Linked DNA regions of Homo sapiens: regions 2 and 3 are each linked to region 1. The links come from fine-mapping of genetic effects on gene expression. A gene starts in region 1. Each other region holds a variant in brackets. All regions are shown on one strand. Distances are from middle to middle.

The links.
Region 2: its variant is fine-mapped to the expression of GRN in whole blood (TOPMed, PIP above 0.99).
Region 3: its variant is fine-mapped to the expression of GRN in whole blood (INTERVAL, PIP 0.95).

Annotation. Positions count from the first base shown.
Region 1 is chr17:44,338,413-44,348,892 of GRCh38, reverse strand. GRN (granulin precursor) reads right to left here and starts at 3,591. Exons shown (of 13, transcript NM_002087.4): 1 at 3,559-3,591. RefSeq lists enhancers at 3,319-3,468, 4,620-5,545.
Region 2 is chr17:44,290,439-44,300,918 of GRCh38, reverse strand. RUNDC3A-AS1 (RUNDC3A antisense RNA 1) reads left to right here. Exons shown (of 4, transcript NR_110802.1): 4 at 1-1,345. It also overlaps the pseudogene RN7SL507P. Among named protein-coding and RNA genes, the nearest start is that of RUNDC3A-AS1, 13 kb to the left of the region's middle. The variant G/A (reference allele first, on the strand shown) is at 4,053.
Region 3 is chr17:44,319,415-44,329,894 of GRCh38, reverse strand. SLC25A39 (solute carrier family 25 member 39) reads left to right here and starts at 5,072. Exons shown (of 12, transcript NM_001143780.3): 1 at 5,072-5,184; 2 at 6,318-6,417; 3 at 6,552-6,611; 4 at 7,043-7,087; 5 at 7,343-7,476; 6 at 8,128-8,195; 7 at 8,337-8,461; 8 at 8,664-8,837; 9 at 9,164-9,273; 10 at 9,459-9,540; 11 at 9,619-9,699; 12 at 9,779-10,267. The coding sequence starts at 6,333. The coding sequence ends at 9,894. It overlaps LOC124904009 (a long non-coding RNA gene), which reads right to left and starts at 4,442. Exons shown (of 2, transcript XR_007065768.1): 1 at 4,274-4,442; 2 at 2,347-2,953. RefSeq lists enhancers at 3,200-3,299, 3,990-4,039, 3,298-4,149, 4,220-4,279, 4,330-4,409 and 1 more, a cis regulatory region at 2,648-3,325 and silencers at 4,860-5,289, 5,310-5,529. The variant A/G (reference allele first, on the strand shown) is at 5,144.

The DNA.
Region 1 (10,480 bases):
CACATGGCCTAATGCCTGGGCCTCACTGGGCAGGCTTATGAGAGTCAGGAAGACGTGATTTTTGTGGGTCTGATCTGTGCAGATGTGGGCCACCTCTGGGGTGAGGGGAAGGCATCAGTAGCCATGGGAGAGGACAGGGCTAGGGTGCAGGGAGGGAGTCCCCCCAGGAAAAGCCAGGGTTCCCCTCCAGATGCCTCCTTGCCTGACACTATGTTCATACCTGCACCCCGCTAAGGCCTTGCGGGAAGCGGCCACATGATGACATGGGAAACCACAGGGGTGAGAAAGTTGTGAAAAAGGAAATATGGTGGCCAGTGGAGTCTGGGCTGCCTTCCCCAGAGGTCACCATCTGCCCATGAATGTCCCCTCCTCACCCAGAGAAAAGGACACAGAAGCTGGGTCAGCCCTTGAGACACCTGTGTTCTGAGGGTCCCCCACACCACCAGGGCCCTCTGAGATTCCTCAAGCATGCTAAACCCTGCCCTTGCCTCTCCATCTATTCTGGAAGTGAAACTCAGCCACATGTGGAGAGAGACCACGTGTGCCCACTGGGCTGCCCATCTGAGTCACCAGGAGGAACTGAGCCTTGAGTCTCTGTGGAGAGCAGCCTCTCACTTCCTAAACAACTCTTCTCCCAGGCTCAGCTAGCCCAGCTAGTTCAGTGGGGTGGCCAGAGAGGTAACTCATAATGAAGAAGCAAAAACAGTAATGTCTGTTGAGCCTCTTGGGAGCCAGTTACAAGACTCTCCATTATTTTATATATATTTCTTTGCAACAACCATCCAAAGTAGTAATTAATACCTTTACTTTTATTTTATTTTTAGAGATGAGGTATTGCCATGTTGCCCAGGCTGGACTCAGACTCCTGGGATCAAGCAATCCTCCAACCTTGGCCTCCTACTAAGTAGCTGGGACTGTGGGAGCGTGCCACCACGTCTGCTCACCCCCTTTTTTTTTTTTTTTTTGAGACAGTCTTGCTCTGTTGCCCATGCTCGAGTTCAGTGGCACGATCTCAGCTCACTGCAACCTCTGCCTCCCAAGTTCAAGCAAGTAGCTGGGACTACAGGCGCTCGCCACCACGCCTGGCTAATTTTTGTATTTTTAGCAGAGAGGGGGTTTCACCATATTGGTCAGGCTGGTCTTGAACTCCTGACCTCAGCTGATCCACCCACCTCAGCCTCCCTAAGTGCTGGGATTACAGGCTTGAACCACCACACCCAGCCACACCTTTATTTTAAAGGAGGAAACTGAAGCTTAGAGATGTTAAGTACAGTCAGCCCTCCATATCCAACCAGGGATCAAAATATATTGGGCGCGGTGGCTAACGCCTGTAATCCCAGCACTTTGGGAGGCCCAGGTGGGCGGATCCCAAGGTCAGGAGTTCAAGACCAGCCTGACCAACGTGGTAAAACCCCATCTCTATTAAAAATACAAAAATTAGCCATGCGTGGTAGCGCACACCTGCAATCCCAGCTACTCAAGAGGCTGAGGCAGGAGAATCGCTTGAGCCCAGGAGGTGGAGGTTGCAGTGAGCAGAGATCACGCCAACATACTCCAGCCTGGGTGACAGAGTGAGACTGAGATTCTGTCTCAAAAAACAAAACAAAAAAACCCCTGAAAATGTTACATCGTTGCTGAGTTATACAATGTAGTTAGGCTTACGATGGGTGCATCTATACTGAACATCTACAGATAGTTCTTTCTTATTATTCCCTAAACAATTCAGGATCACAACTATTTACATGGCATTTCTTTTTCTTTTTCTCTTTTTTTTTTGAGATGGAGTCCTGCTCTGTCACCCAGGCTGTAGTACAGTGGCGCGATCTCAGCTTACTGCGAACTCCGCCTCCCAGGTTCAAGCAATTCTCCTGCCTCAGCCTCCCAAGTAGGTGGGATTATAGGTGTGCGCTACCACACCTGGCTAATTTTTGTATTTTTAGTAGAGATGGGGGTTTCACCATGTTGGTCAGGCTGGTCTCAAACTCCAGACCTCAGGTGATCCACCTGCCACGGCCTCCCAAAGTGGTGGGATTACAGGCATGAGCCACCACGCCCAGCCGACATGTCATTTCCATTGTATTAGGTATAAGTAATCTAGAAATGATTTAAAGTATGTATAGGTTATATGCAAATATTACACCATTTTATCTCAGGGGCTTGAGCACCCACAGATTTTGGGGTCCTGGAACCAGTTCCGTGAAGATACCAAGGGACACCTATAACACGTCACACATCAGGTCATGGTGACGTCAGGCTTTGATGGCCCCAGAGCGTATTGGACCTGGGTTCATATCACTAGTGGCACGATGGGCAGTGCCTGGGAATGGTGCAACAGGTACAACAGAAACAGGGTACAGGGACTGCCTGAAAATCGCACTTGGGTCCTAATCCTAGAATTGCCAACTGTGAGGGCCTGAGAAGTTGCTCTCTGTCTGTGCCTCAGTTACCCCACGAGTCTAGGTGTGGATACCACTGCGGGGGGAGGGGCAGGAAATCTCACCCACCCAGTCACTCACATCCTCTCTGCTCCACCTGGCTTTCCTCAAGTGCCCCTCCCCTAACTCAGCATCCCCAAGAGGCCACCTCCTGGACAGATAAGGATGAAGTTCACTGGTCCTGGACAGTGGACCCTCTCCTCAGCCCCACAGCTCCCAGGCAAAGCACCTGCAGCTGGCACCGCCTGCTTCCTGGGTGTTCTCAGCAGGCTGTCCGCTGCCATGGCTTGCTGGGAAGGGGAGTCTGTCTGCACAGGAGTGTTCGGCTCCCTGGTGAATTACCTGTGCATGTGGCCCCTCCTGTTTACCCTAAATTGAGGGAGTATAGTGTATGCTTCTACTGAATACAAGCACTCGCATACAGAAACAGGGATGAGGAGGCGAGTCGCAGTCTCTCATGCCACCCTACACCGCCAAAACAGCCAGAGGGGACAGCAGCCTCTTCAAGACCCTAGCTCCGTTATCTTCCACTAGGTGGCACCCCCCAACTCCGAGTGCCAAGGGGAGAGGAAATTCCCAAAAGGGGAGCCAACCTAGCTGCAAATGAGCAGGAAAAAGTGGCTGGGAGAGGCGGAAGCTAGCTCGTCCCACCCGCAACAAGAGGAAGTAAGGAGGAGCCAGACCAGGTTCAGTCACCACTCCCAAGTCCCTACTACCTTCGAGAAGCCAAGGTCTCAGGTCTCGTTCCCAGGCCCTCGGAGCTCCCAGCCCAGGGTCGCGCGCCCCTCCGGCTCCAGGCCGCCGCGGGAACCACCCACCACCACCAGGAGAGGGGAAGAAGCCAGCACCTACCGACAGGGGTGGAGCTGGGTCAAGAATGGTGTGGTCCCTGCTTTGGGGGAATGCTGGGGAGGTAGAAAGCCCCTTCTAACGGGGCGTCACTGCAATTACTGCTTCCTCTTTCCCATAAAACTCCCCCTAGTGTATCAGAACCCCCAAGGAGTTTCAGTAAGCGGTTCTTCTGTTGTCTCCGGCTGAGACTCCAGGGGAACCTCAAGCTCACATGGCCCTGGCGGGCCCCTGGGCAGGAGCAGGCGAGAGGTCTGCGCGGCCGCTCTCCTACCTGCGTCCGACTCCGCGGTCCTTGGGCAGCAGCAACCGGGTAGCGCTCAGACTACAGACCCCAGCGCGATGACCCGCCTACCTCAGTTTCCATTGGCCAGGGATCAGGGCTACCCGCTCCCATTGGCTACTTATCAATATAGAGGTGGGGCCAGCCTGGAATGCTGTGTTTCTTTTCTACTCAAATCACTCTCCTCCCTGCTTCCTCTCGCCCCACACCCCATTTCTAGGGATCATGTGATTGGAGAATCATGTGACGTCGGGACAGCCTCAGCAGGGCAGCTGGTGCTCGTCGCCTTCCTTAACCCATCCTGCAGGCGCCTGGGGGAGTTTGCTAGAGATGATAGCGCGTGTCTGGGGCATTGACAGTGCGAGGGAGTGTTATGAATTGGGAATATTTGTGCTCGCCTTTCTATCCTTTTGTTTGTTTGTTCTGAGACGGAGTCTCACTCTGTCGCCAGGCTGGAGTGCAGTGGCACGATCTCGGCTCACTGCAACCTCTGCCTCCCGGGTTCAAGCGATTCTCCTGCCTCAGCCTCCCGAGTAGCTGGGACTACAGGCGCGCACCACCACGCCCAGCTAATTTTTGTATTTTTAGTAGAGACGGGGTTTCACCATGTTGGCCAGGATGGTCTCGATTTCTTGACCTCGTGATCCGCCCACCTCGGCCTCCCAAAGTGCTAAGATTACAGGCATGAGCCACCGCGCCCGGACTTGTGTGTTTGTTTTAGAGACAGGGTCTCGCTCAGTCGCCCAAGCTGATCATAGCTCACTGCGGCCTGCAACTCCTGCTCCCAAAGCGATTCTCCTACCGCAGCCCCCCAAGGCGCTGGGATTACAAATGTGAGCTACTGAGCTGGCTCGCTCCTATCCTATCCTGCCCTGTCTTGTCCTGTCCTGTCCTGCCCTATTCTGCCCTATTCTCCAAACTCGGTTGACATGCTAGGCAGGCCCCAGAGTGAGTTGAAGGATGGTTTCCAGGACAAAGATAAACAGCCCCAAAGCCCTTTCCTCAAGGTGCTCAGCAGGACAGGGAGCAGGGATTGGTGGGAGACAGTCTCAGGCTGAATCTAATTTAAGATACAAGGTTGTGCGCCAGTTGCCAGGTGTAGGGAGAGGAAGTAGATTGTCTCCAGGTGGGGAAGAAGAGATTTCATTCCACCTTAGGAGCATCTCCTTGAGCTGAGTCTGGGAAGATTTTAACTGGCAGGTGGAGGAGGAGGTGTTGGGAAGAGCCCTGGGAAACCAGATGGGAAGGGCAGGCTTGGCAGGGATTGAATGCCATGTTCAATGCCAGTGGGCTTCAGGAGCTGCTGGGTGCCTGGCACGGGCTGGGCTGTGGTGGGGGCTGTCGAAAGAGAAGTGGCTTCCTAGTCTCCAGATCGGCCCTGCCTTCGAGGAATTGATATGGGAGGGTGAGGAGAGAAAATGTACCACAGAACAGATTAGCCAGTGACAAGAGTCAGCCTGCTTGGTGCCAAAGGGCCTGGGCCAGGCAGAGATGGATGATGGGAGATGGGCCAGGAGAGAGGAGAGGCCCAGGGAAAGCCTGATACTGGGCCGTGGAGGAACGGCAGTGTCTGCACAGGGGATGGAGACTGCTGCAGCCTGAGCAAGGAACTGGAGCTGAGGATGAGGCAGGGGCAGGGGGATGGCTAACCAAGCTCGAGGCAGCAGAAGTCGGAGGAGGGAAAGGGTGCCAACCGAGCTGTGGAGTCGTGTGGCAGGGGTTCTAAGCCTGGAGCTAGAGCAGACCCAGACAGCGGATAAGACACCTGGCCTGCTGAGGACCTAGTACTAGTCTGTGCCCTGGTGACACATTTGTGCTTATTTTCCTTCCTGTGTATCTTGAGACTAGGGAGTATAGTTTATGCTTCTATTGAAACACACACACACATGAAACTTTCATGAAATGTTAGGTGAATCGATCAATAACCTACTAATTACAACCACCCAGAACCAGAAAAAAATACAGGTAGAAGAAAAAAAACCTAAACAGACTGAAACAAATATCACAAAGTCTAATCGTCAAAGCCGTGATTCTTGAGCAGCGGCAATTTTGCCGGCCAGGGACATTTAGGAGTGTCTGGAGACAATCTGGGTTGTCACAACTCAGGGTGGAGGGACACTGGCATCTGGTAGGTAAGGGCCAGCAATCCCACTAAACATCACACGACACACAGAACAATCCCCCACAACAAAGAAGTATCCTGCCCAAAAGGTCAATAGTGCTGAGACTCAACAACCTACTTCACAAATGTTTCTCTCTCTCTCTCTCGCTCTTTTTTTTTTTTTTTTTAACATCAGAAGGGTAAGGTGCCACGATAACGAGGTCTGTAATTCCCTACTCAGGAGGCCGAGGCAGGAGAATCGCTTGAACCCGGGATGCAGAGGTTGCAGTAAACCGAGATCGTGCCACTGCATTCCAGCCTGGACAACAGAGCGAGACTCCATCCACCCCCGCCAACACAAAAAAATTAAAGTGTACAACTCAATGGTTTTTAGTGTCTTAAGAGAGTTATGCAGCATCATTACAATCAGTTTAAGACCATTTTTATCACCACAGAAGGCAGCCTTATGTCCTTTAGCAGTCACCCTCCCTAACCCTAGGCAACCACTGATCTACTTTCTACCTCTATAGATTTGGATATTCCATATAAATGAAATTTTATAATATGTGATCTGCAACTGGCTTCTTTCACTTAGCATAATGTTTTCAAAGCTTATCACATAGCAGGTATCAGTATCTCATTTCTTTTTTGTTTGTTTCTTTTCATTTGTTTGAGACAGAGTCTCACTCCAACACTCAAGCTGGAGTGCAGTGGCACGATCTTGGCTCACTGCAACCTCTGCCTCCTGGGTTCAAGCAATTCTCCTGTCTCAGCCTCCCGGATAGCTGGGATTACAAGCATGTGCCATGATGCCCAGCTAATTTTTGTATTTTAGTAGAGACAGGGTTCCGCCATGTTGACCAGGCTGGTCTCGAACTCCTGACCTCAAGTGATCCACCCACCTCAATCTCCCAGACTGCTGGGATTACAGGCGTGAGCCACCACGCGTGGCCCATTTTTGTTTGTTTCTTTGTTTTTGAGACAGAGCCTTCCTCTGCCGCCCAAGCTGGATTACAGTGGTGCCACCTTGTACTGCAGCCTCAGACCCTCCCACCTCAGCCTCCTGAGTAGCTGGGAATACAGACACATGCCACCACTCCCAGCTATATTTTGTATTTTTTTGTCTTAATATGTTGCCTAGTCTGGTCTCAAGCTCCTGGCCTCAAGTGATCCTGCTGCCTCAGCCTCCCAAAATGCTGAGATTACAGATTACAGGCTTGAGCCACTGTGCCTATCTTCATCATCCCCCCAGCATTTTTTTTTTTTTTTTTGAGACAGGGTATTGCTCTGTTACCCAGGTTGGAGTGCAGTGGTGTCATCTCTGCTCACTGCAACCTCTGCCTCCTGGGCTCAAGTAATCCTCCCACCTCCGCCTCCCAAGTAGCTGGGACTACAGGTGCTTATCACCATGTCCAGCTAATTTTTGTGTGGTTTTTGTAGAGACAGGGTCTTGCCATGTTGGTCAGCTAGTCTCAAACTCCTGAACTCCAGGGATCCTCCCACTTCAGCCTCCCAAAGGGCTGGGATTACAGGAGTGAGCCACCACGCCCGGCCCATACAAGTTTTTGTGTGGACATGTTTTCATTTCTCTTGGGTATATACCTAGGAGTAGAATTAGTGGATTACATAATAATTCTGTTTAGCCTTTTGTGTAACTACCAGCCTGTTTTCCAAAGCAGCTGCACTATTTTACATTCCCACCAGCGATGTATGAGGGTTTCAATTTCTCTTTAGCCTCATCCATGGTTAACTTCTGTTATCATCTGTCTTTCTTATCATAACCATCCTAAGCCTTTAGTGTGAGCTGGTGGGCTGGCGACCCAGGAGAGCTGATGGTTAAGTCTGAGGGTAGCCTGCAGGAGAATTCCCTCTAGTTCGGCGAGGCCCGTCTTTCTGTTTTATTCAGGTCCATCCACATTATGGAGTATCGCGGGATCTGGCCAGCAGCCCACAAGGCAATGGGGCTCTCTCTTTGTCCCCAGGTGGATCGGCAGGTCGGGAAATAATAGACACACACAAGATAGTGAAAGCTGGGTCCAAGGGGGTCACCGCCTTCTGGTCCTGCGATGCTGCCAATGCACTGGATATACCAGCATTTATTATTAAGTTTAGTGAGGGCGAGGGTAGGTTAGTGAGGGATTTAGGGTCGTTTGATTATGAGGTGAGATGGTCACATGGGGATGAAGTAATTCTTTAACATAACATCTGTATGCAGAAGTACAGTATACAGAGATAAGAATTTACAATATAGTGTGTGCATCAGTAATTTCTAACAGAGCCTTAAAACAGAAACACAGTCTTTCCATAACCTATGATTAGCAAGATATTAATCAGCAGTAAGAGTTGCAGCAAAAGCTGGTTACAAACAATCCATAGAAACAGGACGTGAAGCTAGATAACCAGTTAGACCAGAAATTATCAGAAGGGAGTATGCCTTAACCTTAAAGAGGCCTAGAAGAGCCATGGCAAGATGAGGGCATTTATAGCCCTATCTTATCCATATGAACAGGTGCCGCTCATGCGTCCATTTATAGGCCCTCCACAAGGGTCACATTCCATTCCCAGGGCTATGAACATCTGCTTTTCTGGGATAGGAATATTGGTGATGTGAAACCTCCCTGACTGCACGTCTGTTCATAGGCTCTCTTCAGGGGGAAGCACATCACGAGCTGTTGGCTTATACTGGCAGTCCAACCTGGCATTGTCTTTACACAATCCTGCATGCAATTTCGTATTTACAATAATCAGGAGCATTTCATCTTTTATTCCGTAGCAATAGTTTCAGGGGGTCTCCCTACAATGGAGAGCAATTTGCTTTAACCAAAGTTCACTGATTTAAATGTTAATCTAATCCAGGAGCACCATCCAAGTAGATACATTGTTCTACCATCACAGTATTATTTGCTGATTGTTTTTGCAGTATTTTCTTTCTTGTTGAACTGTAGGAGCTGTTTATATATTCTGGGTATTTTGTATGTTTCAGATGCTTCCTCCCAATCTGTCATTTGTCTTTTGTGTTGTTGTTATGTCATCTGAAATATATTGGTCAATCTTTTCCTTTGTGGCTTCTGCTTTTTTTTTTTTTTTATTTTCCTTCGCTTAAGAAGTTACAGGGGCCGGGCGTGGTGGCTCACGCCTGTAATCCCAGCACTTTGGGAGGCTGAGGCGGGTGGATCACAAGGTCAGGAAATGGAGACCATCCTGGCTAACACGGTGAAACTCCATCTCTACTAAAAATCCAAAAAATTAGCCAGGCGTGGTGGTAGGCGCCTGTAGTCCCAGCTACTCGGGAGGCTGAGGCAGGAGAATGGCGTGAACCAGGGAGGCGGAGCTTGCAGTGAGCCGAGATGGCACCACTGCACTCCAGCCTGGGCGACAGAGCAAGACTCTGTCTCAAAAATTAAAAAAAAAAAAAAAAGTTACAGGGGGCCAGGCCTATTGGCCTGTAATCCAGCACTTTGGGAGGCAGAGGTGGGTAGATCACTCAAGGTTAGGAGTTCAAGACCAGCCTGGCCAGCATGGTGAAACCCTGTCTCTACTAAAAATACAAAAATTAGCTGGGCATGGTGGCACATGCCTGTAATCCCAGCTACTCAGGAGGCTGAGGGAGGAGAATCACTTGAACCTGGGAGGCGGAGACTGCAGTGAGCCAAGATGGCACCACTGCACTTGAGCCAGGGCAAGTGAGACTTTGTCTAAAAAAAAAAAAAAAACAACAAGTTACATACCAGCAGGCAGGCACAGTGGGTCACGCCTGTAATCCCAGCACTTTAGGAGGCCAAGGCCAAGGTGAAAGGATCACTTGAGCCTAGGAGTTTGAGACCAGCCTGGGCAACATATGGAGACCCCATCACTAAAAAAAAAAAAAAATTAAAAAAAAATTAAAAAATTTTCAGGCTGCCAGGAATGGTGGCTCACGCCTATAATCCCAGCACTTTGGGAGGCTGAGGTGGGTGGATCACCTGAGGTTAGGAGTTCAAAACCAGACTGGCCAACATGGTGAAACCCCATCTCTACTAAAAATACAAAAATTAGCCAGGGGTGGTGGTGCACATCTGTAATCCCAGCTACTTGGGAGGCTGAGGCACGAGAATTGCTTGAACCTGGGAGGCAGAGGTTGCAGTGAGCCAAGATTGCGCCACTGCACTCCAGCCTGGGAGACAGAGTGAGACTCTCAAAAATAAAAATAAAAATAAATCTGGCAACCCTAAAAGCTGAGGCTCAAGTGAGGGCACAGAAACAGCCACCTCCCCACCCCCACCTCTTTTTCCCCTTGCTGCTTGAGTCACCTCCGTGTGAGCGATTGTTGACCCAGTTCCAGGCGCCTGCCCTCATCATCAGGCACCTGACTAGTGTGCCTGCTGGGCCCCGCCTGGGCTGTCTGCCCCAAGAGGCCCCAAGGAAGTGTGAGGGATAGGCTAAGCCATACCCTGAAGCCCTAGCCTGTCACAGGAGACCACCCCACTGTATGAGCCCAGAGACAGTCACTCGGTCACCTGTCCTTTCTGGGCTTTGAAAGGGTGTGAGAGGGGAGAGGGATGGGGACCAGGGAGCCAGGCTGGGAGCAGGGACTTGGTAAGAGGATTCTTGGAGAGATCTTGGGATGGGAGCTTTAAGCTATTGCAGAAAGCTAGCCCGGAAGGGAGATTAGTGCTCAGTGCTTTCACAGATTACAGGAGAGGAAACTGAGGCTCAGGGAGGCTCAGGCTGAGGCCTCTTGACTGGAGGGCTTATAAGCTATAAAGTGCCCACACCAGGGTTCTGGGTCCAGGCAGGGCTGGCTTCATAGCCATGTGACGAGGGCCCTGTGCT
Region 2 (10,480 bases), 48 kb after region 1:
GATCTCAGCTCAATGCAACCTCCGTCTCCCGGGTTCAAGCAATTCTCCTGCCTCAGCCTCCTGAGTAGCTGGATTTACAGGCGCCCACGACCATGCCCGGCTAATTTTTGTATTTTTAGTAGAGAGAAGGTTGCACCATATTGGCCAGGCTGGTCTCTTGGCCAGGCTGGTCTCAAACCCCTGACCTGGTGATCCGCCCATCTTGGCCTCCCAAAATGCTGGGATTACAGGCATGAGCCACCACGCCCGGCCCCCAAACCTTTATTCTTAAAATAAAGGTTTCAAGAATAAACCTTTATTCTTGAAATTAGCATTCTACAAATTGGAATCCTCAGAACTGTATTGCTCTTTTTTTTTTAACTTTTACTATTGGACACGGAAATAGGACATGGCACACCAGGGAGTCCCCTGGGTTCCAGACATAGTCCTCCCTGCCTTTCTTTTGGAGTTAGAACCCAGCTTACCCTTGGCATTTGGGATCAGTCATCCCAGAAGGTAACCCCTTTTTTGCCCTGAGCTCAGGTGAGAGCCTTATCTTCCAGGTAGTGGAACCATTGCAGTATCTCCTCGTGAAAGGATTCCTCCCTTAGTGTGGCAGATGCTGGCAGTGCCCTCCCATGTTCCTGAAGCTCTTGGGTTCACTGGATGAACTTCCAGCTGCCAGAACCTGCAGCTCTTTATCTAAGGACTCTCTCTGGCCACTGGAGCCTGCTGAGCAGGCTGAAAGTTCTGGGGAATTATACTCCCAGCCACAGCAACCTTCAGCCAATCACCGATGGGGATCGGTGCGTAAATAGCCAGCTTCCTCATCCCTCAGGTCCTGCAGCAAACATTATGACTGGCTCCCTGAGTTCCTTCTTAGGATTAAGCTCTGGTTGTCCACGTGTTTTGTTTGTTTGTTTGTTTGTTTTGTTGTTGTTGTTTTGTTTGTTTTTGAGACAGAGTCTCACTCTTGTTGCCCAGGCTGGAGTGCAATGGTGCAATCTTGGCTCACTGCAACCTCCGCCTCCTGGGTTCAAGCAATTCCCCTGCCTCAGCCTCCCAAGTAGCTGGGATTATAGCCATGTGCCACCACGCTCGGCTAATTTTGTATTTTTAGTAGAAACGGGGTTTCTCTATGTCGGTTAGGCTGGTCTCGAACTCCCGACCTCAGGTGATCCACCTGCCTTGGCCTCCCAAAGTGCTGGGATTACAGGTGTGAGCCACCGCACCCGGCCGGTTGTCCATGTTTTTAACTTGCTTGATAACACACCCTTTATGAGCCTCCTTTCTTTCCAATGTCAGTCTCCCACTGGCTTGCTTGGTATTCCTAGCATCGCTTTTCAAATAAACACTTGTGTTTCTCAAATAAATACTTTCCTTTGAATCCTTGACTCAGGTTCTACTTCTGGAGGGAACCCAAACCAACACATTTGATATCCAAAGTTGTCCTAGGAAGTAGACCCCCAGGATAAGATTCTGGTTTTGGATCACTCATCATCCAGATGGCCCAAAGATTCCATTGCTGAGGTAAGTGGGGTACTAATACCCACTGGAGAACTGGACTGATCGTCAGACTGTCACCCTGGTGAAATGGGATGCAGACAGGGATGCACTGCCTATGCAATAGCTCTAGTATTTGAGGTGTAAGAGGAAAATGGTAATTATAAGGACTGTGGAGACTGGGCTCAGTGGTTCATGCCTGTAATCCCAGCAGTTTGGGAGGCCAAGGCGGGTGAATGACTTGAGGTCAGGAGTTCGTGACCAGCCTGGCCAACATGGCAAACCCTGTCTCTACTAAAAATACAAAAATTAGCTGGGTGTGGTGGCAGGCACCTGTAATCTCAGCTACTAGGGAAGCTGAGGCACGAGAATCACTTGAAGCCACAAGGCAGAGGCTGCAGTGAGCTGAGATTGCGCCACTGCACTCCTGCCTGGATGACAGAGTCTCACTCTGTCATCAAAAAAAAAAAAAAAAGGAGTTGTTTGGTTGCTGTTAATGCCATCAAAGGGTTAAAAGAATAAAAGACAGACTCACATCAGCCAGCTATCAATTTATGATATAGTTAAAAGCTAGAAGAAGCCGGGCTCACACCTGTAATCCCAGCACTTTGGGAGGATCACTTGAGCCCAGGAGTTCGAGACAAGCCCCAGCAACATAGGAATACCCTGTCTCTACAAAAAATAAATTATCTGGGTATGGTGGTGAGCACCTGTGTTCCCAGCTATTCAGAAGGCTGAGGTGGGAGGATCACTTGAGCCCAGGAGGTTGAGGCTGCAGTGAGCCATGATTGTGCCATTGCATTCCAGCCTGGGCGACAGAGCAAGACCCTATCTTAAAACAAAACAAAAACCAGAAGACCTCTATGGCAGCATGTAAGGAAACCCTCACCTCCTGTGCAGGGCAGACTGTGATGAAAATCAGTCCTATAATCTGATTGCAAGAGTAGCAGGGTTTTATATTTAAAGCCCCAGCAGGTCAGGGCCCTGGGAGGGAAGGAGTGGGATCCTGAGGCCTGGTATGGGAACATCTGTTCTAAAACCCCCTTATTATGCTGAGTTATTTGGGCTGGCAGAATTGGCCTCTCCCCCTGGGTGGAAGAGAGCAGCCTCCCCTTGCCTAGATAACATGCAGATTCCTCACCTGAGGCAGACGCCTCACAAGATGATACTTGCCCTCTTCAAAGCCTGATGTTGACTCCCCTCCATGACTCTAGACCAATAACAATGGTCAAGTCTCATCAGGGACCAAGTGGGGAAGCACTGTCCCATCTATGGAAAGAAAAGGATGATTCACCAAAAGACCTGCAGGAGCTGGTGAACATTTACCAGAAGAATTTGGCAGAACATGTTTGGGAACATATCTTGAGGGTGTTAGACTGGGGTCAGGGGGTGGAATATAAGGCTGAGTAAGGCCGGGTCGGGTGGCTCATTCCTGTAATCCCAGCACTTTGGGAGACTGAGGCGGGAGGATCACCTGAGGTCAGGAATTCGAGAACAGCATGGCCAACATGGTGAAACCCCATCTCTACTAAAAATACAAAAAAATTAGCTGGGCCTGGTGGCGTGTGCCTGTACTCCCAGCTACTCAGGAGGCTGAGGCACAAAAGTCCCTTGAACCCGGGCAGTGGAGGTTGGCAGTGAGTCTAGATCGCACCACTGCACTCCAGCCTGGGTAACAGAGTAAGACTCCGTCTCAGAAAAAAAAAAAAAATGCTGAATAAGGGTACGTTTATTGATATGGAATGCCCTACCTGGTAAGGATTTAACATTTTATTTTATTTTATTTATTATTTATTTATTTATTTATTTATTTATTTATTTATTATTTATTTTGAGATGAGTCTTGCTCTGTAACCCAGGCTGGAGTGCAATGGTGCGATCTAGGCTCACTGCAACCTCCGCCTCCTGAGTTCAAGCAATTCTCCTGCCTCAGCCTCCCGAGTAGCTGGGATTACAGGTGCACACCACCATACCGGGCTAATTTTTGTATTTTTAGTAGAGACGGGTTTTCACCATGTTGACCAGTCTGGTCTCAAACTCATGACCTCAAGTGATCCATCTGCCTTGGCCTCCCAAAGTGCTGAGATTACAGGAGTGAGCCATCACGCCTGGCCTGGGATTTAACATTTTAAAGCTTGGCAAGGACACCAGAAGCCTGTTGCAATATGCCCCCGGGATAGATCTTCAAAGTGTGGAAAAACTATGAGTTCCAGCAAATGAGGTAGAGATGTTGGAACTTCCTTGACAGAATACTTGGAAGAATAAAGGCTCAGAAAAGTGGGCATGCCAGAATAAAATGACTATTATATAAGACTATAGAACCCTCCAGCCTACTGTGTTCTTCATGAGGGCCCAGAAATACTCAATAAATAAAGTGATACAAAAGGTGCTAGTTGGAACAGGGCCACTGGCATTTGCAGGTCAGTGGTAGCTGTCCTCAGCAGGCCAGAGCAATGGTAGCGGGAGCTGCTATGGGACTAGCCTTTCTAGAGTCAGTGGGTATAACAGGAGTCCAGAACGAGGTCAGGCGACAGCACGTGGTCATGAGAGGCTAAGTGGACATAATTACC[G/A]TAATAGGCAGAAAGACCAGAAATGTAAGCAGGGATCTATTGTGATGACCAAGAGACCATGGTGTTCCCAGATAGGAGGATGGTGAAGGAGGGTATCTCTTGCTTATAAAAACAAGCAAGAATGAGACAGCAGAAGGCTGAAGTTAGCCACTGCAAAGGAAAATCCCCATCCCATACCCAGTTTCCAGGCCCAAACCAGTTTTCAGATATAGAGCCCTTTGTCTTTTTTTTTTTTTTTTTTTTTTTTGAGATGGAGTCTTGCTCTGTCACCCAGGCTGGAGTGCAGTGGTGCAATCTTGGCTCACTGTAACCTCCACCTCCCAGGTTCAAGCGGTTCTCCTGCCTCAGCCTCCCAAGTAGCTGGGATTACAGGTGCTCGCCACCACACCTAGCTAATTTTTTGTATTTTTAGTAGAGACGGGGTTTCACCATGTTGGCCAGGCTGGTCTCGAACTCCTCACCTCAAGTGATGTGCCACCTCGGCCTCCCAAAGTGCTGGGATTACACATGTGAGCCACCAAACGTGGCCAAATATAGAGCCCTTTCATTGAAGTGGGGGCCAGTTCCCTTCAGGAAGAATCCTACAATGCCATGGCAAGTTTATATCATGGTAATTATCCTATTCTTCCCCCAAAGGTACTTACAGCTGCTTATCAGAGCAACTGCATCCTGGGGAAAGGGAAATACTCAGATCTTTCAAGGCTTTTGGATACAGAGTTGGAACTGACACTAATATTAAGGAACCAAAATGCCATCATGGGCATGTATTAGTGTGGGGCATATGGAGGCCAGGTGATGAAAGGAGATCTGGCCCATCAGTCTGCTTGATGGTTATTTCCCTGGCCCCTGAATACATAGTGGAATAGAGGTACTTAGTAGATAGCAGATCTCTCGCGTTGGTTTCCTGAAATAAGAGCCATTACCACACCTGTAATCCCAAGTGTGGAGGCCAAGGTGGGAGGATCACTTGAGCCCAGGAGTTTGAGAGCAGCCTGGGCAAAATAGTGAAACCTCATCTCTACAAAAAAATTTTTTTAAATTAGCTGGGTATCGTGGCACACTCCTGTAGTCCCAGCTACTCAGGACACTGAGGTGGGAGGATTGGTTAAGCCAGGGAGGTCAAGATTGCAGTGAGCTGAGATTGTACCACTGCACTCCACCCTGTGTGACATAATGAAACCATCTCCAAAAAAAAAAAGAATGAAATAAGAGTCATTAGGGTAGGAAAGGCCAATTAGAAATTGCTTCCTCATCTCCCTCCCAAGAGAGTTAATCAGAAGCAATGCCCCAGCCCAGGTGGAATGGCAGTGGTTGGAGTCACTCACAAAGGATATAAAAGTGGTGGTTCCCAGGATATCCCCATTTAATTCATCAATCTGGCTCTTGCAAAAACCAGATGGATCATTGTAGATGAGGGTGCACATAACCAAGTGGCGCCCTGATTGAGTGCTGTGCCAGATGTGTTAGCTTTCTTAGAACAGATCAACAGAGTCCCTGCCATTTAGTCCATGACTGTTAATTTGTTGAAGGAAGTAAGATTAGAAGCAGATTCCTGCCAGGCTCGGTGGCTCACGCCTGTAATACCAGCACTTTGGGAGGCCAAGGCAGGCAGATCACTTGAAGTCAGGAGTTTGAGACCAGCCTGACCAAGATGGTGAAACCCTGTCTCTACTAAAAATACAGGAATTAGCCAGACGTGGTGGTGGGTACCTGTAATCCCAGCTACTCAGGAGACTGAGGCACGAGAATCACTTGAACCCGGGAGAGGGAGGTTGCAGTGAGCCGAGATCGAGCCACTGTACTCTAGCGGGGGCAACATAGCGAGACTCAGTCTCAAAAAAAAAAGCCGATTCCTTTCCCTGAGGACAGACAAAAGTCCACATCCACAGTCTTACCCCAGGGCTATGTTAACTGTCCTGCTTTCTGTCATAATAGAGCAGAAACCTTGATCATCTTGGCATTCCACACAACATCACACAATCCATTGTACCGACGACATTGAGCTAATGGAACCTGGTGAACAGAAAGTGGCAAGGCACGTGCTTGCCAGAGGTTGGAGGATAAATCCTACAAAGACTCAAGGATCTTTGCAAAATTTGTCAGAGTCCAGTGAACTGGCACCACCATGTGTCTCCTATCCCTAGGAAAGATGCACAAAGCCTGGCAAGCCCCTTCAGATATGGGAGATGGCACATGCCACACTTGGAAATACTGCTCCAACTAATTTTCAGGGAACTCCGAAGGCTGCTGGTTTTGAGTGGGGCCCACAACAAGAGAGGTTTTTTTCAGTCCAGGCCAAAATGCAAAGTTCCCTGCCACTTGGGCTCATATAGCCTAGCAGATGCCATCTATCTATGATTCATAGGATGCTTTGGGGAGTCTCTGGCAAGCCCAGAAGGTTCTGGAGCAAGGCCATGCCATCTACAGCAGAGGACTGTTCCGGTTTTAAAAAATAATCTTCTGGCCGGGTGCATCGGCTCACACCTGTAATGCCAGCACTTTGGGAGGTCAAGGGATCACCTGAGGTCAGGAGTTCGAGACCAGCCTGGCCAACATGGTGAAACCCTGTCTACTAAAAATACAAAAATTAGTCAGGTGTGGTGGTGCACGCTTGTAGTCCCAGCTACTCGGGAGGCTGAGGCACGAGAATGGCGTGAACCCAGGAAGTGGAGGTTGCAGTGAGCCGAGATTGTGCCACTGCACTCCAGCCTGGGTAAGAGAACAAGTCTCTGTCTCAAAAAAAGAAGTCTTCGGTTGTGCTGCAGAGACCTGACCATTGGACAGGTATGGTGATGTGATCAGAGCTGCCCATTGCGAAGCGGGAACTGTCAGATACACCAAGTGACACAGTTGAGCAGGTGCAGCAATAATCCATCCTACCATGGAAATGGTGCATTCCAGATGAGGACTACTCAGCCTAAAGCGCACAAGTAAGTTACATGAACAGGCAGCCAGACCCCCAGGGCACGTATCCCTGTTGCAGCTATGTCTCTCCCTCAACTCACACCTTTGGCCTCATGGGGAGTTCTTTATCACCAGTTGACAGAGGAGGAAAAAAAGCCCCAGATCTAATTTACAGATAAAATGGCTTCCTAGGTTGGTGTGGACTGAAAATGAACTTCAGCCACATCACAGCCACAGTCAAGGGTGGCCCTGAAAGGCAGTGGTGAGGGGAAACCCCCTTGATGACAGAGCTGCTGACATTAGCACCTGGTCAGCAACATAAGGTGGAAGGAAAAGGGCTTTGAGCTAAGGATATACACAGATTACTAGGTAGAGGCCAGAGTCTTGTCTGATAGGTCAGAGACCTAGAAGGAGCAAGGCTGGAAGATCTGAGACGGGTTTTTGTGAGGGGAGGACAAATGGATGGATTTGCTGGAGTGAGCACAAAGTTTGCACTATGTCTCTATTGGTACCCCACGGTGAGCATCCTTTGCAGAAGGGGTACTAAGCAACCGGGCGGACAAGATAGCCTGGTCAGTAGATGTCCTTCAGCTTCTTTTTATTTTTATTTATTTATTTATTTTTGAGACAGGACCTCGCTCTGTTGCCCAGGAGTGCAATGGAGTGATCATGGTTCACTGCAGCCTTGACCTCCCTGGGCTCAGATGATCCTCCCACCTCAGCCTCCCAACTAGCTGGGACAACAGGCACACACCACCGTGTCTGGCTAATTGTGTGTGTGTGTGTGTGTGTGTGTGTGTGTGTGTGTGTGTGCAGAGACAGGGTTTTGCTATGTTGCCCAGGCTGGTCTCGAACTCCTGGGCTCAAGCGAGCTTCCTGCCTTGGCCTCCCAAAGTGCTGGGATTATAGGTATGAGCCACCGCACCCGGGAGACAGAGCTTGCAGTGACCTGAGATTGCGCCATTGCACTCCAGCCTGGGTGGCAGAGCAAGATTCTGTCTCAAAAAAAAAAAGCTACAGTATCTACTTGGAACTAATGGTCATTATATGGTGCTGTGTCTGCTATAGCTAGAATACATGGTTCCAGGAACCTAGGAATAGAAGTTGGAGTGATCCCCCTCACCATCCTTCCCAGGAACCCACTGGGAAATATATGTTTCTCACCCACACTACTTTTTTTTTTTTTTTTTAATTTTGTAGAGACAAGGTCTCACTATGGTGCACAGGCTGGTTTTAAACTCCTGGTATCAAACAATCCTCCTCCCTTGGCCTCCCAAAGTGCTGGGATCATAGGCATGAGCCACTGAGCCCTGCCTTTTAAAAAAAAAAAAATAGAGAGGGACAGCTGCTTGCTGTGTTGCCCAGGCTGAACTGCAGTGGCTATTTACCAGCAGGATTATCACACAAAACAGTCTTGAACTCCTGGGCTCAAGTGATCCTCCTGTCTCAGCCTCCGGAGTAGCTGGGACTACAGGTGTGCACCACGGTGTCCAGCTTTACCTCCTGCCACTTTATACTTTGGTAGACTAGTGATCATGATTGGTGATCCTGATTCCCAAGGGTAGGTGAAGGGAATGCTTCTACCAGGCCACTCAGTAAGGATTCCACTAAAACTGAAGCTATGGCTGCCTTATGATCGTTTTGAGCTCCTCGGGCCAGTAGATCAGCAGACAAAATAAAAAGAAGCTACTCTCCTGGCAGGGTAATCAACCCTGATTATCATGAGGAGACAGGGTTGCTGCTATATAATGGGTGCAGAAAGAATAAATCTAGACCTCAGGGGATTGACTGGTCACCTCGTGTTGACTCCATGAGTGATGATAACTGAATGGGCAACTGCAGCAAAACCATGATCTGAATGGATATGGAAACCAGGGGCTCAGACCCATCAGGAATACCCCCTGAAGCAGCATCATTCACCATAGCCAAAAAGTGGAGACAACCCAAAAGTCCATCAGCTGATGAATGGACCAACAAAATGTATTATATGCATACAATGGAATATTATTCAGCAATAAAAAGGAATGAAATACTGATACATGCTACAACATGGATGACCTTGAAAATATCATGGTTAGTGAAAGAAGCCAGCCACCAAAAAACCTATATTGTATGATTTTTTTTTTTTTTTTTGAGATGGAGTTTTGTTCTTGTTGCCCAGGCTGGAGTGCAGTGGCACAGTCTCTGCTCACTGTAATGTCCGCCTCCCAGGTTCAAGCGATTCTCCTGCCTCAGCCTCCCAAGTAGCTGGAAGTACAGGCTCCTATCACTATGCCCAGCTAATTTTTGTATTTTTAGTAGAGACGGGTTTCACCATGTTGGCCAGCCTGGTCTCGAACTCCTGACCGCAGGTGATCTGCTCACCTCAGCCTCCCAAAGTGCTGGGATTACAGGCATGACCCACAGCGCCCAGCCTATATTGTATGATTTTATTTACATGAAATGTCTAGAATAGGCAAATCTATAGAGACAGAAACAATATTAATGGTTGCCTAGGGCTGGAGGGAGGAATGAGGAGTGATGGCTGATGGGCATGGAATTTCTTTTTGGAGTGATGGAAATACTCTAAACTTAGAATGTAGTGGTTGTAGAACTCGGGGAGTAATAAAAGCCACTGAATTGTGCACTTTAAATGGGTGAATTTTATGGCATGTGAATTATACTTCAATAAAGATGTTACAAAGGAAACTTATAACAGTATACTTCCATTTCTTCTGTCCCTGACTTTGAATATTGTTGTTAGACATTTTACTGTAGTTGGTATATTCATGCATATTAATGAGATTGGCTATTTTTTCAGATGCTTATTGAGCCAGGTGAGGTGATGTGAGCCTATAGTCCCAGCTACTTGGGAGGCTGAAGCAGGAGGATTGCTTGAGGCCCGTCCTGGACTGTAGTGCGCTATGCAGATCGGGTGTCCACACTAAGTTCAGCATCGATATAGTGACCTCCCAGGAGTGGGGGACCAACAGGTTGCCTAAGGTGGAGTGAACCAGCCCAGGGTGGAAAGGGAGGAGGTCAAACCTCCCATGCTGATCAGTAGTGGGATCACGCCTGTGAATAGCCACTGCACTCCAGCCTGGGCAACATAGAAAGACCCCGTCTCAGCCAGGTGCGGTGGCTCACGCCTGTAATCCCAGCACTTTGGAAGGCCAAGGCAGGCGGATCACGAGGTCAGGAGATTGAGACCATCCTGGCTAACACGGTGAAACCCCGTCTCTACTAAAAATACAAAAAATTAGCCAGGCGTGGTAGTGGTAGGTGCCTGTAGTCCCAGCTACTCGGGAGGCTGAGGCAGGAGAATGGCATGAACTTGGGAGGCAGAGTTTGCATCGAGCCGAGATCGTGCCACTGCACTCCAGCCTAGGCGACAGTGCGAGGCTCCGTCTCAAAAAAAAAAAAAAGAAAGACCCTGTCTCTAAAAAAATAATAAAATTAATCAAATTCTTATTGGTCAGTTGGATTTTCTCTACTGTGAAGTTCCTCTTCAAAGTATTTTCGTCATTTTCTATTGAACTGTTTTT
Region 3 (10,480 bases), 19 kb after region 1:
AGGAGAATTGCTTGAACCTGGGAGGCCAGGCATGGTGGCTCATGCCTGAAATCCCAGCACTTTGGGAGGCCAAGGTGGGTGGATCACCTGAGGTCAGGAGTTTGAGACCAGCCTGGCCAACATGGAAAACCCGGTCTCTCCAAAAATAAATAAATAAATAAATAAATAAATAAATAAATAAATAAATAAACAAAAAAAAATTAGCCGGGCATTGTGGTACAGAGCAAGACTTCGTCTCAAAAAAAAAAAAGAGTAATTAGCATACAGACCTTATTCCCTTTTCTCCACTTGTTCCAATAAAGTCCTCCATCACTCCCCTACTCCTTTCCACCCTCAGAATCCATTAAAGATCAGACTACAGGCCGGGCGCGGTGGCTCACGCCTGTAATTCCAGCACTTTGGGAGGCCGAGGCAGGTGGATCATGAGGTCAGGAGATCGAGACCATCCTGGCTAACAAGGTGAAACCCCGTCTCTACTAAAAATACAAAAAATTAGCCGGGCGCGGTGGCGGGCGCCTGTAGTCCCAGCTACTCGGGAGGCTGAGGCAGGAGAATGGCGTGAACCCGGGAAGCGGAGCTTGCAGTGAGCCGAGATTGCGCCACTGCAGTCTGCAGTCCAGCCTGGGCGACAGAGCGAGACTCCGTCTCAAAAAAAAAAAAAAAAAAAAAAAAAAGATCAGACTACATTTGCTATGGGCCTGGGATTTGGACTTTTCCTCTGGGCAGTAGGGGGCCTCAGTGGTTCTGCAGCCCTGGGCCCTGCTTTGGGAGACTACTCTAGATGCAGACAGTGCTGGCCCTGGACTCAGAGGTGCTGGTGGGGTCCCATCCATGGGTGAAGCCCTTGAGTCCTCCATCAGCCCCAGAGATGTCTTCCTAGGCCCTGGGGGTTCAAGCTGGAGGGGACACTGCCCCTGTCCCAGGGCTTGCCTTGGACAAATTCAGCCTTGTAATAAACTGGCCCCTTGGGTATCAGGTGAGGACTGGTCCTTCAGTCTCCACAACCACCCCTGCAGCTGGTACTTTCTTCTCCCCTTTTACAGTTAAAAAGGGAGAGTTTCTGCTTTTCCATCTGTGCGAGGAAGCTGCAGATGGCCACATGGGGCCACATGTTGCCTCTGGAAGGACCACTGGGTGCATAACCAATGTAAACCTTGCCTGAGTCAGCCAGGCCAGTGGCCACCTCTGCAGCCTTCCAGGCTTGCTCCTCGAGGGTGGGCGTGTTGAGTCAGGGCTCCATAGCTTCTGGAGCATGTCAAAGCTCCTCCTCCACCCTGAACTGCCACGGTCATTCTTGGGAGAGACTTCACGAGGTCCCGAGGTGTCCCATCACCCATGGATAACCTCTCCAGCGGCCACTGCTTTGGTCACACCCATGAGGCCTCATGGTTCTCTAAGCTTCAAAGCATTTACATTCTGGAGAAGGTAAGGACTGTGATCCACGCGGCTCTGGGCCCCTGGCAGGTCTCACAGAACTGTTTATTGACTCTTCATGTAGCTTTCAGAGACATGATATTAAGAATCTGTACGTTAGGCAGAGCAGGTGATATCGTCCTTATTTTCAGATGAGGAAACAGGTGTATCCACAAATCTCTAAGGATCCTATTTAAGAGCATCACAAAAAGAAAACCAGAAATGGAGTGCAAGGCCCTCAATGTACTGTTGGGGAAACAGGCTCAGAGGTCCCCAGGTTTGATTCCTGGCTGTGCTACTTTGCACTGGTGACCTTCGTTCTGGGTATAAGAAGTTATTATTATCCATCACTGCATACTGGAGGCAGAGGTGGGGCCAGAATCTGGGGAACTTTCCATGCCACAGGTTCTAGAGAGCAATTAACAACAATACAGTAACAGCAATAGTAGTAGTTGTCATAGAATGCTTGCCACTTGCCAGGGTTCTAAGCACGTCACAGCCATTAATGCATTAAATCCTTACATAATCCCTAGAGGAAGGTGCGTTATCATCACCATCAGCCCATTTTGTAAATGGGGAAACTAAGGCTTAGAGGCCTTAAGACACTTGCTTGTAAGAGGCAGGTGAGATGGAAAGCCAGGTCAGGGTGCTGCTGGAACACAGCACCTGGGTTGAGAACTGGACAGGGTGGGAGCCCATCTGGCTCAGGCACGTTGGGGGGTCTAATGCTGACTCTTTCATTTGAGTGACCTTGGGGCGATTTGACCTTTGGGGCCCCCCTTTTCTCATCCATAAAACGGGAGAGTGTGTGCAGGGAAAGTCTGGGTTCTCCTCCACACGAGTAAAGTCACTACACACAAGAGCCCTCAGTTTCCTCCCCTGTTCCGTAAACCAAAACGTCTAAGTTGTAAAGAACCTTGGCGGAGAGTAGGCTTTCACCTTGACCGATAGTTTATTTATTTATTTATTTATTTATTATTTTTTGAGACAGAGTCTCCCTCTGTCATCCAGGTTGGAGTGCAGTGGTGTGATCTCGGCTCACTGCAGCCTCGACCTCGCGGGCTCAAGCGATTCTCTGGCCTCAGCCTCCCAAGTAGCTGAGACTACAGGTGCGCACCACCACCGCTGGCTAATTTTTGTATTTTTAGTAGAGACGGGGCTTCGTCATGTTGGTCAGGCTGGTCTCGAACTCCTGTCCTCAGGTGATCCGCCCACCTCGGCCTCCCAAACTGCTGGGATTACAGGCGTGAGCCCGACCTTGACTGATAGTTGATTAAATTATTTCGTGTCATTTCTGAACTCAGCTTGAGATGGGAAGGGAATGGAAAGGACGCCTTCTCTCGGGCCCTTTTGCCCAGCGCCCCTTTACAGGTCACAGATTGCACTCTCCCTGCTCCCAAGCTGGAGTTTCAGAGCTGTGGGGGAGCTCAAAGGCATTTTGTCAGGGAAAGCTGATAGTTGGCCCCTCGGAGTCCACGTGCTAACCCGGCAGGCGCCGGCTGACTGGGCTCCTCCAGCGCCGGACGCGACCAGTGGGGGCCTGAAGGGCGGGGAAGGCAGAGACGTCAAAGTCGAGGCCTACCCTTCTTAAAGGCGCAGGCTAGGAGTACCCATCTCCCCGCCCGCCCCCCCCCGCCTCCACCCGCCCGCCCGCCCCCCTCCGCCACCGCCCGCGCGTGCTGGTTTCTCTGTTAGGACAAATAAGCAAGATAGCACAGAAGTTCTAAACGCGAAGTGGGTGGTGGGGCCTGGGGTACGGGGCTGCCCCGGGAAATAAAGTGTCTCCCTGACAAGCGGGATCGGAGAGGGCAGCGCTGGACTTAAGCCTTCCTGTCTCCCGGGGAGGCAGTGTGGAGCCCTGGGAAAAGCACCCGGCCGGTTCGAATCTCCGGCTCTTCACGTCGAGCCTCAGTTTCACTTTCTGTAAAACGGGGTAATCTATTTCTTTTTCAGACGGAGTTTCGCTCTTGTTGCCCAGGCTGGAGTGCAATGGCGCAGTCTCGGCTCACCGCAACCTCCGCCTTCCGGGTTTAAGCGATTCTCCTGCCTCAGCCTCTCGAGTGGCTGGGATTACTGGCATGCGCCACCACGCCCGGCTAATTTTTTGTATTTTTAGTAGAGACGAGGTTTCACCATGTTGGTCAGGCTGCTCTCGAACTCCTGACCTCTGGTGATCCGCCCGCCTCGGCCTCCAAAAAGGCTGGGATTACAGGCGTAAGCCACTGCGCCCGGCCTTTTTTTTTGAGACGGAGTGTTACTCTGTTGCCCAGGCTGGAATGCAGTGGTGCGATCTCGGCTCACTGCAACCTCCGCCGGCCGGGTTCAAGCGATTCTCCTGCCTCAGCCTCCCGAGTAGCTGGGATTACAGGCGCCAGCCATCATGCCCGGCTACTTTTGTATTTTTAGTAGAGACGGGGTTTCACCATGTTGGCCAGGCTGGTCTCGAACTCCTGACTTCAAGTGATCCGCCCGCCTCGGCCTCCTAAAGTGCTGGATTACAGGCGTGAGCCACCGCGCCCGGCCTGTGGTAATCTATTTCAACAATAACCTACTGCAAAGAGTTTTGAGACTCAGAAGAAATCACGATACGAGAGCAACCAACACCAAAACGTCGATGCCCTCCCGCACTCAGTGCTCTTCCTCTCCGCGCAGAGTCATTCCGGGCCTTAGGCGAGGTTGTGATTTGCCCAAGGTCACGCGAAGGTGGGATCTGGCTCCCCATGGCTCTCCCGTCTCCCCCGGCTTGCTCACGTCCCAGCCCGCCCGGCCCGGGCTGCAGCTCAGCTAACCCAGTGGCGCACACCCGCGCGGGGCCCTGTGGTTTACAAAGCGTTTTGCAGTTGCAGGCCTGTCCTGTAACCTGAAAAATGGGGGCGATGCTAAGGCCGGCGAGAGAAGTCGCCGCGAAGTTTTCAAGTCTCGGCGGGTAGCCCGGCAAGTAACTTCGTCGTTATTGTGTGGTCTCCCGGCGATCTCGAAGAACTCATTCTCACTGCCGCCGCCACGCACCTGAGGACACCGAGGAAGAGGGCCAGTGCGTCACCCTCGCCGTCCAGAAGGCGCTGGGGTTTCCAGTGCCGCGCGCGGCCGGGGCGGGGCTGGTGAAAATGCGCTGTTAAGGCCGGCGCGGCGGCTCACGCCTGGAATCCCAGCACTTTCGAAGACCGAGGTGGGCGGATCGCTTGAGCCCAGGAGTTCCAGACTAGCCTGGGCAAAATAGGGAGACAAAAATAAAAGTAACAAACCAGCCGGGCGTGGCGGCGCGCGCCTGTGGTCCCAGCTACTCCGGAGGCTGAGGCAGGAGGATCGCTTGAACCCGGGAGGTCAAGGCTGCAGTGAGCCTAGATCGCGCCACTGCCCTCCAGCCTCGGCGACAGAGCGAGGCTGAAAAAGATGCTGTCTAAAAAAAGATGCTGGAAGTGCGTGCTGCTGCCACGTTAAGCGCGACGTGGAGACCGCGAAGTTGGCCGGCAGCTCTCAGCGCTGGACAGGCATGGAACTCGCCCGCGCGGCCCCGTCAAGGGGGCGGGACCGTCGCAGGTCCGGGCGGAGACGCGAGTGGGCGGAGCCGGGGACACTCCGGGCTTGCGGCTGGTCGGCCCGCGGCGGGCGGGGCCTCGTGGCGCGGTGTAGGGGCGGGGCCCCCTTGGCTGCTTTCGGCGTCGGCCTAGGTGCGCTGCGAGCGCGCGCGGACCGCGCACAGGCGGCGGAGCCGGTATGGGCCCGCCTG[A/G]CCCTGGGCGCCGCGCCGCACGAGCACCAGCCTAGAGCCAGGTAGGCGGCACTGGGCCGGGGCTGGGGGCGGAGACGGAAGCGGGGGTCTCCGGGCGGCCGTGCGAGCCAGGGCAGGTGCTGGGGCCGTCGAGCTGGCGTGGTCCCCCTCACCTGGCGGCTCTCCGCCGTTCGGGGCCGGGAGTGTCGCCGAGGGTCGGGGAGACGTCCTGGTCCTACGTTCCTACTTCCCGCTCTCCCGGCTGCGCCCCGGGCCTGCATTTTGGGGCGGGAACCCAGAGACTGCTCTTTCTCTCCGGGCCCCGGGTCTGGCCCGTCCGGCCGGGCGGGGAGGGCCGGGCATCCCAGCCCGCAGTCCTGAGGAGGCGACGGGCCCTTCTTGGTCACCGGATCTGTTTACACGTCACCCTCGATGCCCGGCCGTCCCTCCACGCCCAGTAACTTGGGCTCTCAGGTGCCTGCCCGGGGCCTTGGTGCTGGAGTGGGGGCTGTGGGGGCAGCACAGGTACTCTGATTTTGGGGCCACGAGGGCCAAATCCGCGCCTGCACGTAGGAGGTGCGCAGTGGACACGTGCGAGGTGGACGAGGGAAGGACCCTGGCTCCTACTGCATTCGAGCGATAGGTCTGGCACCCTAGCTTCCTTCGGAACCACTCCTGAGTGACCTTGGGCAGGCCACCTCGTCTCCCCGAGCCTTAGTTTTCCCCGGCGGAGGGGGGCGGACAGTCCCTGCTTTAGAGGTCATTGCCAGGGTTGTTGAGGCAACAGATGTTTCGAGGGCGGTGGATGAGGGTTGGGTTAAAGTCTCACAGTGGGCCGGGTGCGGTGGCTCACGCCTGTAATCCCAGTGCTTTGGGAGGCTGAGGCGGGCGGATCACGAGGTCAGGAGATCGAGATCATCTTGGCCAACATGGTGAAACCCTGTCTCTACTAAAAATGCAAAAATTAACTAGGCGTGGTGGTGCGCGCCTGTAGTCCCAGCTACTTGGGAGGCTGAAGCAAGAGAACCGCTTGAACGGGGGTGGATGTTGCAGTGAGCCAAGATGGTGCCACTGCACTCCAGCCTGGCAACAGTGCGCAGAGCGAGACGCCGTCTCAAAACAAAAGTCTCACAGTGGCCCAGCCTCCTTTCCTGCCATCCCTGGAGTTGTGGTCTGTTTGAGGTTTGGTTTTCAGGACTGAAGCTTCAAGATGGCTGACCAGGACCCTGCGGGCATCAGCCCCCTCCAGCAAATGGTGGCCTCAGGCACCGGGGCTGTGGTTACCTCTCTCTTCAGTAAGACCTAGGGGAGGTGGGGTGGGGGCGGGTGGGGATGGGGCAGACCGGAGATTGGAGGCTGTGTGGTCCTGGGGGAGGAGTCCTAGGGGTGGGGTCCTGAAAGGAGCCTTCAGACCCGCTTCCTCCCCCAGTGACACCCCTGGACGTGGTGAAGGTTCGCCTGCAGTCTCAGCGGCCCTCCATGGCCAGCGGTGAGTACCTGACCTGGAACTAGTGAGGGGTGGTGCCTGGGCAAAAGAAAGATCTCCCAGAGGCTGGCCGTGGTTTCTCATACCTGTAATCCCAGCGCTTTGGGAGGCTGAGGTGGGTGGATCACCTGAGATCAGGAGTTCAAGGCCAGCCTGGCCAACGTGGTGAAACTCTCTCACTACTAAAACTACAAAAATTAGCCGGGCTTGGTGGCATGCGCCTGTAGTCCCAGCTACCTGGGAGGCTGAGGCAGGAGAATCGCTTGAACCGGGAAGGTGGAGGTTGCAGTGAGCTGAGATTGTGCCACTATGCTCCAGGGTGGGCGACAGAGCAAGACTCCATCTCAAAAAATAAAATAAAAAGATCTCCCAGAGATGGGGTCCCTAGGGCGGGTGGGGGCTCTCCTGACTTGAGGGGCTGCCTTGTATTTTAGAGCTGATGCCTTCCTCCAGACTGTGGAGCCTCTCCTATACCAAATGTGAGTGCCCCAAGCCACAGGGAGCATGGGAGGGTGCAAGGGGGAGACAGTCCTTGTCCCTGTCCCCAGGGCACCAGTGGGCTCCACAGCCATGGACTAGCATATACTCCCAGGTCCTGCCAGCCAGTCCTGTGACCTGCACCAGAACATCCACACAGGGACCTGGCCTTTACTGGCCTTCCAGGGATAGGGGCCCACTGCCTCCCTGCAAGGTTCTAGGATCCTGTCATTATAATGCCCCCTGCCTTTCCCCAGTGCCCTCCTCTCTCCAATCCACAGGGAAGTGCCTCCTGTATTGCAATGGTGTCCTGGAGCCTCTGTACCTGTGCCCAAATGGTGCCCGCTGTGCCACCTGGTTTCAAGACCCTACCCGCTTCACTGGCACCATGGTGAGGAGCAGCTGGGTCCGTAGGGATTCGTCGGTGTCCGTGAGGAGTTCGGTCTGGCTGGGCAGCAGACCCAGGAGTAAAGGGATTGGGCAAGGCACGCAGAGGTAGCCGGTTCCGTCAGGAAGTGCTTCCGGAGAAGGCAGTACCTCCATGGGGTGTTTGTTTTCTTTTAGACAGAGTCTCGCTCTGTCACCCAGGCTGGAGTGCGGTGGTGTGATCTCAGCTCACTGCAACCTCTGTCTCCTGGGTTCAAGTGGTTCTCCTGTCTCAGCCTCCGAAGTAGCTGGGATTACAAGCGTGCACCACCACCTGCCGCTAATTTTTGTATTTTTAGTAGAGACAGGGTTTTGCCGTGTTGGCCAGGCTGGTCTCGAACTCCTGCCTCAAGTGATTTATCCGCCTTGGCCTCCCAAAGTGCTGGCTGGGATTACATATGTGAGCCACCGTGCCTGGCCTCCATAAGGTTTTTGAAGGGTGACCAGGTGTCCGCCTGGACCCAGCTGCTGGGGTACTGCATGTGTAGAGGCAGGGAGGCCTGAGGGCTGTGGGCAGAGGCTGAGGGCGTCAGGCAAAGGCCTAGCCTGGGCCAGCCCCATCACAGACATCACTTGTGTCCCTCCTCTTCCCCTGGGCTGGTGCCTGCTTGGCCAGGATGCCTTCGTGAAGATCGTGAGGCACGAGGGCACCAGGACCCTCTGGAGCGGCCTCCCCGCCACCCTGTGAGTAGCCGGGTCCTGCACCACTCTCCTCTGGTACTTCCTGACCCTTTGCTCCCTGTTGAATGGCTAGGTGGGGCAGGTGATGCTTTAAAAGTTTGGGTCCTTTTGGGAGTCCCAGCTAACCTCTCTCTGTATCCCCAGGGTGATGACTGTGCCAGCTACCGCCATCTACTTCACTGCCTATGACCAACTGAAGGCCTTCCTGTGTGGTCGAGCCCTGACCTCTGACCTCTACGCACCCATGGTGGCTGGCGCGCTGGCCCGCCGTGAGCATAGTCTTGGGCCTTTGACCTCCCTCTGTCCCCACCTCGGCCCAAACCCAGTCAGTCCCAGCTCCCAGCCCCAACCTCTGCCAGCCTAGGGATAGGGGGGTGTTCTAGGTCCCCAGACCTGGGACAGCAGGTAGGTGATGCCATGTAAGACCTGTGATCTCACTTCTCCCCATTGTCACCCCCAATCCCCACACAGTGGGCACCGTGACTGTGATCAGCCCCCTGGAGCTTATGCGGACAAAGCTGCAGGCTCAGCATGTGTCGTACCGGGAGCTGGGTGCCTGTGTTCGAACTGCAGTGGCTCAGGGTGGCTGGCGCTCACTGTGGCTGGGCTGGGGCCCCACTGCCCTTCGAGATGTGCCCTTCTCAGGTAGGCACCCAAGCTGCAGGGGGTGGGTGAGGGAACCCTGGGGTGATGCACAAAGGGTCTACAGCCAAGTCCCAGCTTTGTGACTAGTGACCATGAAGTTACTTAGCTTTTCTGAGCCATGGGTTTCTCATCTGTGAAGTGGGCCTAGCAGGTAGAGTATTTGCCCAGGCGGTCAGGAGATTAATTCCTACAGAGTGCCTGCTTCTGAGCCTGCATGTAGCAGACAAGACTCACAGCTGGGAGGGAGTGGTGGCAGTGAAAGGTGGACGGTCTGGGGCCACTTCCTTGCCCTTCCCGTCTCTAATCAGTGCATCCCCCACCCCAAGCCCTGTACTGGTTCAACTATGAGCTGGTGAAGAGCTGGCTCAATGGGTTCAGGCCGAAGGACCAGACTTCTGTGGGCATGAGCTTTGTGGCTGGTGGCATCTCAGGGACGGTGAGTGGACTGGGCTGGAGGTGAGGCCAGCGGAGGTCTCCCTGCGGGGGGCCTGAGGATTTTTGGAGATGCCCAGAAGCAGACCCCATGAGGCCTTTGTCCCTCCCAGCCGCAAGAGCCATCTGGGAGGTAGGGGTGGGGGTCCAGGAAGTGGAGCTGAGCCCTCTCCCCGCCCACCCCACCAGGTGGCTGCAGTGCTGACTCTACCCTTTGACGTGGTAAAGACCCAACGCCAGGTCGCTCTGGGAGCGATGGAGGCTGTGAGAGGTGAGGGCCCAGATTGCCGTGGCAGGGGACAGGTGGGGTCCTGAATGGGGTCTCACTGAGCCGGCCTCGCGTTTGCAGTGAACCCCCTGCATGTGGACTCCACCTGGCTGCTGCTGCGGAGGATCCGGGCCGAGTCGGGCACCAAGGGACTCTTTGCAGGTCAGTGTGTGGGTGTCGGGGGTGGGGGCATGGCGGACCTGCGACCTGACCCCTGACACGGGCCTCCTTTCCACTGCAGGCTTCCTTCCTCGGATCATCAAGGCTGCCCCCTCCTGTGCCATCATGATCAGCACCTATGAGTTCGGCAAAAGCTTCTTCCAGAGGCTGAACCAGGACCGGCTTCTGGGCGGCTGAAAGGGGCAAGGAGGCAAGGACCCCGTCTCTCCCACGGATGGGGAGAGGGCAGGAGGAGACCCAGCCAAGTGCCTTTTCCTCAGCACTGAGGGAGGGGGCTTGTTTCCCTTCCCTCCCGGCGACAAGCTCCAGGGCAGGGCTGTCCCTCTGGGCGGCCCAGCACTTCCTCAGACACAACTTCTTCCTGCTGCTCCAGTCGTGGGGATCATCACTTACCCACCCCCCAAGTTCAAGACCAAATCTTCCAGCTGCCCCCTTCGTGTTTCCCTGTGTTTGCTGTAGCTGGGCATGTCTCCAGGAACCAAGAAGCCCTCAGCCTGGTGTAGTCTCCCTGACCCTTGTTAATTCCTTAAGTCTAAAGATGATGAACTTCTGCCTGGTGCCTGTCCCTCTGGGGCCTGGGGTGGCTGGGAGGGAGGCTTGGGAGGGACCCTGGTGCTGGTTTGGCTGCCCAGAGTGGCACCTATGAAGAGGACCTCTCCAGTTTGGCGAGAGTCGGGGTGAGGACCTAGAGTGTAAGGGACCACAAGTAGACATTCTGGTGGTGAGGTCCCTTTGGGGACCTCCCCCCCATGTTAGGGTTAGA